Linked DNA regions of Homo sapiens: region 2 is linked to region 1. A link means that fine-mapping ties the variant in region 1 to the expression of a gene that starts in the linked region. Tissue or cell type: monocytes. Region 1 holds a variant in brackets; the other region holds the start of a gene. All regions are shown on one strand. Distances are between the middles of the regions.

What was found. PIP is the estimated chance that this variant, and not a neighbour inherited with it, causes the effect.
Region 2: it holds the start of RABIF, and the variant in region 1 is fine-mapped to the expression of RABIF in monocytes (Quach 2016, PIP 0.95).

The regions. Positions count from the first base shown.
Region 1 is chr1:202,615,056-202,619,505 of GRCh38, forward strand. The region is part of intron 1 of SYT2 (synaptotagmin 2); the gene reads right to left. Among named protein-coding and RNA genes, the nearest start is that of SYT2, 93 kb to the right of the region's middle. The variant C/T (reference allele first, on the strand shown) is at 2,112.
Region 2 is chr1:202,887,589-202,891,588 of GRCh38, forward strand. It overlaps RABIF (RAB interacting factor), which reads right to left and starts at 1,561. Exons shown (of 2, transcript NM_002871.5): 1 at 1,385-1,561. The coding sequence starts at 1,510. It overlaps KLHL12 (kelch like family member 12), which reads right to left. Exons shown (of 12, transcript NM_021633.4): 12 at 3,532-4,000. RefSeq lists a silencer at 967-1,256 and an enhancer at 1,327-1,596.

The DNA.
Region 1 (4,450 bases):
AGTTGAAAACAGCCAATAACAAATGTCATCCCCGAGCTCTTATGAAAGACAGACGGCATTCCCGGGGAATCCACCAGAGGAAAATGACTTAGAGCTGCAGAGAGGGAATGTGGGGAGTCCATGAAGCAGCAGCAGCAGATTGGAAGCTTTTCCAGACTCCAACAAAACCAGGAGGCCATAGCTGCCCAGACAGCAAGGGAATAGAAGATGCCTGAGGAGGCTCATGTCAAAGGCAGGCATGGGCAGTGGGCCCAGAGAGTGGATGGGGTGGATTCAGGGCCCGTCTCTCAGTTATGCACCCAGTACATGGCACCAGGTGCTGAGACCAGAAGCCTTGGGGTCATCCTTCCCATCCATGTGGGGTCACCCCCCCACATCCCAGGTGTCTGCAAACTCATCAACCACCCACAATGCCTTCCAAATCTGGCCACTTTCCACCCTCCAGCTGGAGTACCACAGTAGCCTCCTATCTGGAAGCTTCCACTCCCCTCCACTCAGCCTGATCTCCACACTGCAGCCAGACTGATCTATTTAAAACCCTCCTGTGGCTTCTTGTCACATTTAGAATAAGATCCCTGCCTGGCCTGGCCCCTGGCTGGCTCCCACAGGCATTTCCTGTCCTTGCTCTCAGTCACGCAGTTCCTGCCATGCTGGCCTCTTGCCACCAGCCACAAACCCACCAAACAGACCCCCATCCCACAGTCTTGGCACTTACTCTCCCTCAGCCTAGAATGCTCTTCCTGGAGAAGTCTCCCTGACCTCCCTGGGCCACCATCAGCCCCTCTAGTCTTCTTTTCCCACCATGGTCCGTGGTGCCTACAACTTGTTCGCAATTCCCCACACTCCCTTGGCATTTCTGTGGTATTCACCTGGCAAAGCGCCAGCCCTGGAGAAATCCCACTGACAGCTTTCTCCTTCTCCATGGCTACCCCCGACTGCTGAGCCCCCTGGTGAAAATCCCCCCACAGTACAAGGGCAGCCTGTATCCCATCAATCCCCAGGATCACCCAGGCCCTCTGCACTGCACAGAAACTGCAGGAAACGCCTCCCCACCAGCTTCGCCTCCTCCTCCAGTTTCCGCAGGCCTGTGGCTCCCTCACACCCCTCCTCTCTCTTTGCTGTTATTTTAAAGAAAAGCAGAAGCGAGAAATCTCTCAAAATGTCCCAACCTTGGGTCAAACCACAGACCTTTCCTCCTGACCCCTTGTGAGTTGAGGGCTTTTCCTCTGGTTAAGCCAGTTCCCGTTCCTGCGCAGGATCCCTCCTGACTTCTCAGGAAGTCTTTGCCATCCCTGCCCTTTCTTGTGCCTAACATTTCCCCCTTCCCTCAGCTGAGGCTGGACCAGTCCAGTTTATCACATCACCCACCAAAAATGAGCCCCACCTGCTGCCTTGTTCTCCCCTTCGTGACCACGCACACACACTTGCACACACATACACATATGCACACACATATACACACGTGCACACACACGCACACATGGTCCCCATTTCGTCACGTCCACCTCACTCGTCAGCCCCTCCATTGTGGCTTCTGCCCCATCCCTCTGCTGAAGTAGCTCTTTGTAAAGTCATGGATGATGAACACAAGGTCACTAAACCCAGGGCGCATTTTCATTTTCCTTGAGCTGGACCCCTGAGCTGTGGTCAGCTGGCCGCTGCCTGCTTTTGTCATAACTGTGACTACTCCTCCTTCGGTTGCCTCAGGCTTGCACTTGAGGTCCTTCCCTTCTCAGCCATGGTGTCTCCCTGCGTGGTTCCTTCTGCACCCAGGCATCAGTGCCATCCTCTTCTGTCAGAGTCAAGCCACTTCCGAGCTCCAGGCCCACAGGTCAACTGGCCCCCGACATAGCTGCCTGATCTTCTGGGTCTCCTCTTGCTCGCCTCCAGTCAGTTCCGTATTTGCCACCAAGGCAATCTTCATAAAATGCAAAGCCAGTCATGTCGCCAAAAATGAAAAGCCATCCCAGGGAGACAGGCCGAAAGCCCTAGCGTGGCCTACAGCCCCTCATGCTCTCCATCCAGCAGCACCTCAGCTTTCCCTCCCTGGGTTGCTAACACCAGCCTACACTCCTTCTTTTGTTTCCCCTAATACACTGTATTACCCTCTT[C/T]GGGGCCTTTGTATATGCTGTGCCCCCTTCAAGGAGCCAAAGCCTATGATACAGTTTGGATCTGTGTCCCTGCCCAAATCTCATGTCAAATTGTAATCCCTGATGTTGGAGGTGGGGCCTGGTGAGAGGTGATTGGATCACAGGGTCAGATCTAGTGATAGTGAGTTCTCATGAGACTGGTCATTTAAAAGTGTGTAGCACCCCCCAACCCCCACTCCCTCGCCTCTTCCTCCTGCTCTGGCCATGTGAAGTGCTGGCTCCCTCTTCACCTCCCCCCATGATTGTAAGTTTCCTGAGGCCTCTCCAGAAGCCGAGCAGATGCCAGCATCATGCTTTCTGTACAGCCTGTGGAACTTCGAGCCAATTAAACCTCTTTTCTTTATAAATTGCCCAGTCTTAGGTTTTTCTTTATAGCAGTGCAAGATCAGACTAATACAGTCTACACATCTTTCTCAGCTCAAACAGTACTTCCAAGAACGCCTTCCTCCCCACACCCATGGCTCCCTCCTCCCCTACCCCCGCATCAAGGCCTCAACCACCTGCTTTCCCAGCTCTCCATTCTCATCCCCATGGTACTCATGCAGCTTGTGACTGTATAAGCAGCCACCTCATTGGTCTTACTCACTGCTGTTGCTCTAGTGCAGGCATTGGCCAACGGCAGTCCAGGGGCTAAATCCAGTCCCCCACCTAATTTTTGTAAATAAAATTTTGTTGGGACGCTCACTTGTTTACGCATTTTTTGTTGTTGTTGTTGTTGAGATGGAGTCTCGCTGTCTGCCAGGCTGGAGTGCAGTGGCACGATCTTGGCTCACTGCAACCTCTGCCTCCCAGGTTCAAGCAATTCTCCTGCCTCAGTCTCCCAAGTAGCTGGGATTACAGGTGCCCACCACACGCCTGGCTAATTTGTTGTAGTTTTGTAGAGACGGGGTTTCACCATGTTGGCCAGGCTGGTCTCGAACTCCTGACCTCAAGTAATCTGCCCACATTCAATAAATATGTGGGTCTGTAAATGATCAAGCAGGACAGACTTTGAGATTGGGTCACATTATGTCATTTCACAGAAGACACTGAATTCTGTGGGGAAGTGGCCTTCCCAGGGTCCCCCCGTGCAGTACAGGCTGGCTCTGGGCCCAGGGCTCTTTCCACAAACCATGTTAAGACTCAGTTGTCATCAGGCTATATCCAGGGACACCCACCCAAGCATAGATTGGGAAGGAACCAAGGTCTGGTGTGAGTGTGTGTGTGTGTGTGTGTGTGTGTGTGTACAGCGAGACCCCAAAGCTGGCATGGGAAGTGGGGGCATTGCACACAGCTTTGGGAACTGCCCACCCTTCCTCTCCTCTTGCAGCAGGCCTGGGACCATAGAGAGTCAGACGCACCCCCTTATGAGTCATTTCACCTCGGGTGGTTTCTTTCACCTCTCTGAGTGTCAGACTTCTTAACTATTTGAATGCAGCTTTTATTCCTAAACCCTCGAGTTGAGGCTGGGATTAAATGAGATGTTGCATGGGTAGAGACCGCATGTCCTTCCCACAGCCCACATCTGCTCAGCATGTAGAGAACCACTGCTTATTTTTCCAAGGCTGCCCTTCGGTTGCATTTCCATTTTCCCTGGGAGACACGCCAGTAGCTGAGAGACCAAGATTCCCTCAGCTGACTCTCCTTCTGATGTGACCCCCTGTCACCTGGCTCTGCTGTCCCTTCTAGAGTCAGAGAAAAAAAATGTAAAAAGAAGGAAAACAGCAGGAGCCCTTTCATACCCTGCATGCCACCCAAGACTCCTGGAGGCCTGGAGAAGTGAAGCCAGTTGTCCAAGGTCGCACAGGCATTTGGTGGAGGAAGAATCTAAATCCCTGGACCCCTAGTCCAGTGCTTCCTTCCACAGCCCAGCAGCCTCCTCCGCCTCCAGGACTATTTCCCCCACTCTAGGAGGCAGGGCTCCTATGGCTGGGGAGGAATGGCGGCGAGAACGGTGTGAGGGAGAGCCAAATTATCGGGAACTCACAGCTGCCTCGCCTCCCGCATGGCTGGGAGCTGCAGTCCCGGGGAGAGCAGCCAGCTGGAAGACTTGAGGATGATAAATGGATCAGGGTGCCAGGGCTCCCAGGACAGAGTGAACTCCTCTGTCTGGTCAGAATCACCCGAGCAGGAAAGCATGAAATGGCGCCATTAGGTGAAGGCTGCAGCTGCCCGGAGAGGGAGGCTGGGGGTGGGGAGAGATGCCTGCTCCCAGCCTGCTGGGCCACAGGTCAAGGTCTGAAGAGGTAGGGGTCTGGGAGGCCCCAACAAGGGAGAAGACACACAAGGGAAGGGACTGAGGAAGGGTCTCTCAGGCTTGG
Region 2 (4,000 bases), 270 kb after region 1:
CCAGGTTCAAGCGATTCTCCTGCCTCAGCCTCCCGAGTAGCTGGGATTACAGGCTTGTGCCACCACCCCCAACTAATTTTTGTATTTTTTTTTTTAGTAGAGATGGGGTTTTGCCATGTTGGCCAGGCTGGTCTCACACTCCTGACCTCAGGTGTTCCGCCCGCCTCGGCCTCCCAAAGTGCTGGGATTACAGGCATGAGCCACCGCGCCCAGCCTAACTGTTTTAATGTTAATGAATGATAGTCAGGACTCAATTCCATGTATGTTTCAATTCCAAGATCCATGTTCTTTCCACTGACTCCATAATGCCACTAACTTCGTAAAATTAATTGAGAACTCTACTCCTAAACCTTGAAGTCTTAAAAGAACCCCGGGACCTCCACCAATCTCTAGATCAAAAGTCATCAAAATACCTACAAAACAACAGACACAGATTCCCTTTTTTCCTCCTTTGATGAAAGGCTGTTTTGGACGAATGGGTACCTCTTGCTCTTCTACTAGACATTACACTTCACCATCTGTTCAAGCACGTGAAATAATAAAATGATCTGCATATTTTTAGAAATAATTTTGAATGATAGGATGTGTCTATGGTTGAAATGACATTATATTTGCACTTCAACACAGTTTACCGAAATAAATTTTTTTTTCAACTTTCTCACTTGCGATGATGGTGGTAGGAAGGGTATTAAAATCCCTAAACTGAAGGGAAAAAAAAAGTTTTTCTTCGAAATTTACTTCCAGGACGTCAGGGATCTACTGCACTTGAAATATGATTCATCTGGAAAACCACAGGCTTCCAGTGCCTCGGTAAAGTGGGTAGGTTACCAGGGTTATTTTGCCGCGTCCCCAACACCAGTTGTTCCTGGGGATCCTCTGTGGAGCAGATAGGTGCCCGTCATAAATGAGACGGTGAATTCAGGACTGGCGGGTGAGGTCTAAAGTGGGAAAGGAACCCAGCAACACCCGCGGTGAGCGGCGGCCGAGAGGCACCTGCCGGGTCCTGCAAGCTGGCGGGAGCTCCGAGAGCCGGAATGGGGCGCCTCCCTTCCACGCGCCCGCGGAGCACCGGCCTTGGACGGCGGCGGGGCGCACGGCCCGCGCTCGAAGCCCCCCCGGGGGCAGAGGGCCGGGCTGGCTGGGCCGGGTGGCCCAGGGAAGGGTTCCCGCGGCAAAAGATGCCGGGGCGGGACCCGGTTCCCTCCCTAGCCTTCAGCGGCCCCAGGGGCGGAGCCTCGCCGAGCTGAGGCCCGAGGGGCGGGGCTTAAGGCCGCGCGAGGAGGGCGCGGTTGCCGGAAATTGAAGAGCCGGGGTTCAGATTCTGACTGCGGCGGCTCGTCGGGGGAGACTGTGGGTGTAAACGGCCTCCAACCTGCCTCCCTACCTGTCGGCGAGAGAAGAGAGCGGTCCCTGGCTGCAGCACCCGGGAGCCGCAACGCTGGCACAGCACCGCCTTCCGGTTTCGGCCCTCGGCTGACACTAACTCGCTCGGCTGCTCCGCTGGTTCCATCGCCGCTGCCGCCACAGGCTCCTCAGCCACGGCTGCGCAGACGCTGTCTCTGCTGGCTCGTTATTCACTGCGCTGGCGCGGCTTGGCAGAGGCGGGGCGGCGAGCGGACGGTCACTATGTCTCTGCGCAGGCGCCCGCTTCCCCGCTCTGGACTCTACTGCGCAAGCGCCTTCATTCATTGCCTAACCTAAGTGGCTAGGTGTCGGCAGGCTTTGTGACAGGGACACTTCTTGGCACCAGTGACACATCTCCATACCCACCTGGCCACTGGGCTTCACTTAAAACCTAGACAAATCATTAGGTTGACCTTACTGTTTAGTTTTCTGGGATCTGAATTTAGTCTCCTGAATAAATGGGGACATTATTGGGGGCAATATGAAGGGAATCTGGGTCGGACTTCCCATCAAGTTTTAGCCACATTAGCTTCTTCTATAGGAAACTACTTAGAGGGGCATGTATCTTTTCGGTATTGGAAAAAGATGCGTGGAAACTTTAATTGCTGGTCTCTTCTACTCATTGTGACCATTTACTATGCGGCAAAATGTGTCAAAGCGCCTTTAGAAACTTACTAAATCATCAGTTTCCTTACGGGGTCGGCACGCTTGTGCACAAAATGAGAAAGGTAAAGATCAGAAAGGTTGCAGCACAACTCTAAAGCCACTGCTCTTAATTAACTAGGATTGTCAGGAAAGCAAGATTATTTCAGACAGAACAGTATTATATATGAACAAGGGTGAGAACAAATTTAGGAATGGTTAGTAGACCACTGTGGCTGACCCACATTACACGTGGGGAGAAGTGGTAGTAGAGGTAGGTAAGGCAGAGTGGGCCCAGAGCTCCATGGCTTTAATGTCATGCTAAGGAATTTAACATTAATAACATGAACAATGGGAATCTGTGGAATTTTAGGCCAGAAATAACTGTTCGATATTTACTGTCTGCTGTATGTTAAGCACTGTAATGATCCTATCTGTGCTTCAGAAAGATAACCTATGAATAAATAGAGGGGCTAGATTGAAGAGAGGAAAAAGAGTAGAGGTAAGGTATCAGGTAGCTATTACCTCATCAGTCTAGCTCAGAAAGGCCCTGAAGCTAGCAGAGGGAACAAAGATATGGGAATGGACTTGAAACAATTAAAATTGTACAGAACTTAGAAACTAGCTGGATGTCTGTATTGTGATGGGGGTGACACAAAGCAACTGCTGGTTTTCCCAGGTTAGATAACTAAGTAGCTGGTTGCCAGTTATGGGAGCTTAAAAAAATAAGATGAACCACCAAATTAGGGGTATCTCTGTGTATGTATGTGAGCACATGAAAGTGTGTACGATTGTGAAGAGTGAAAAAGGAGCTGTTTTACGTGTTGATTTTTCTGTAGAACATACCATTGTGGCTTCAGTGTATGAACTATTTGTGAAGTTGGTCTGAAACTCATTAGTCAGCACTGAAGACAGCATAGGAGCCATCAGTCCTTCACCCTCCCCTGGATCTCTTCCTGAGATAGGAAAAGTCACGTTTTATAGGCTTTGGTTTAATTAGCATGCACAATCCATCTGCCAAAGTTGGTAGGCATCTTTTAAGGAAAATAACTTCCTCATGTGGCTCCTCCTTCCTTTTGCTCTGGAAGCATCAGGACTGTTTCAGTTTTGCAGGCCTTCCGCATAGCTGTTTATATCACATGCCACAATTCAAAGCAAATGGAAAAAAGGACTGGTGTGACTGAAACCCTGAAATTCAAGCGCGTGCTAAGTGAATTCAAGATCTTTTCTGTATTCCTTTTTCAAGTAACTCCAAGCGTCAGAGGGGCTAATGAATATGGCAAATCAGGTAAATATTTTACTGATGAGAATCTCCAAAGTGTAAAGTGGCTACCTCTTACCTGTGTCTAACATAGAAATAGCGGAACTAGTTGGCAAACACACAAGATGAACAGCTTGAAGAGACAGGAGCTACGGCTGATCCCTACATCTTTCCCTCCCAAATATCTACTAAAGGCAATGTTGGTTAGCCACAAACTCTCGGCATTTGAGACCGTTGATTTTTAATATTTTCTTAAAAAAATACAAAGGAAATTAACTCTGTAGGTCAATACAACTCAGGGAAAGAGGGAAAAATGGAATTTCAGAGCAAAGGTTGTTTAGGTTATCACATTCCCACACTCCTAATACCCACAAAACAAGAATTTCACTCCATGACACAGAGGAACATTGAATGGTAGCTCAGAAATGTTGATAGCTGAGGTACTGAAACTAACAAAAGGATTTTGGTTGTCCTTGATTATTCTGTCCTGTGATGAATAAAATCTACACTAAAGGACAGGTAAGGAAAACTTATAGCAGAAAAAAGACTAGATGTACCAAACACAGCAGTACAAACCACTCCTTGGCAGACATGTGCTTCTAAAAGAATGGGGCAGTAATCAGGTAGCTGAACTACTAGGCTACTGTCACTCCCAGCCCATCCCCAAATAAATAGTGTGGAAGTGTAATAGTG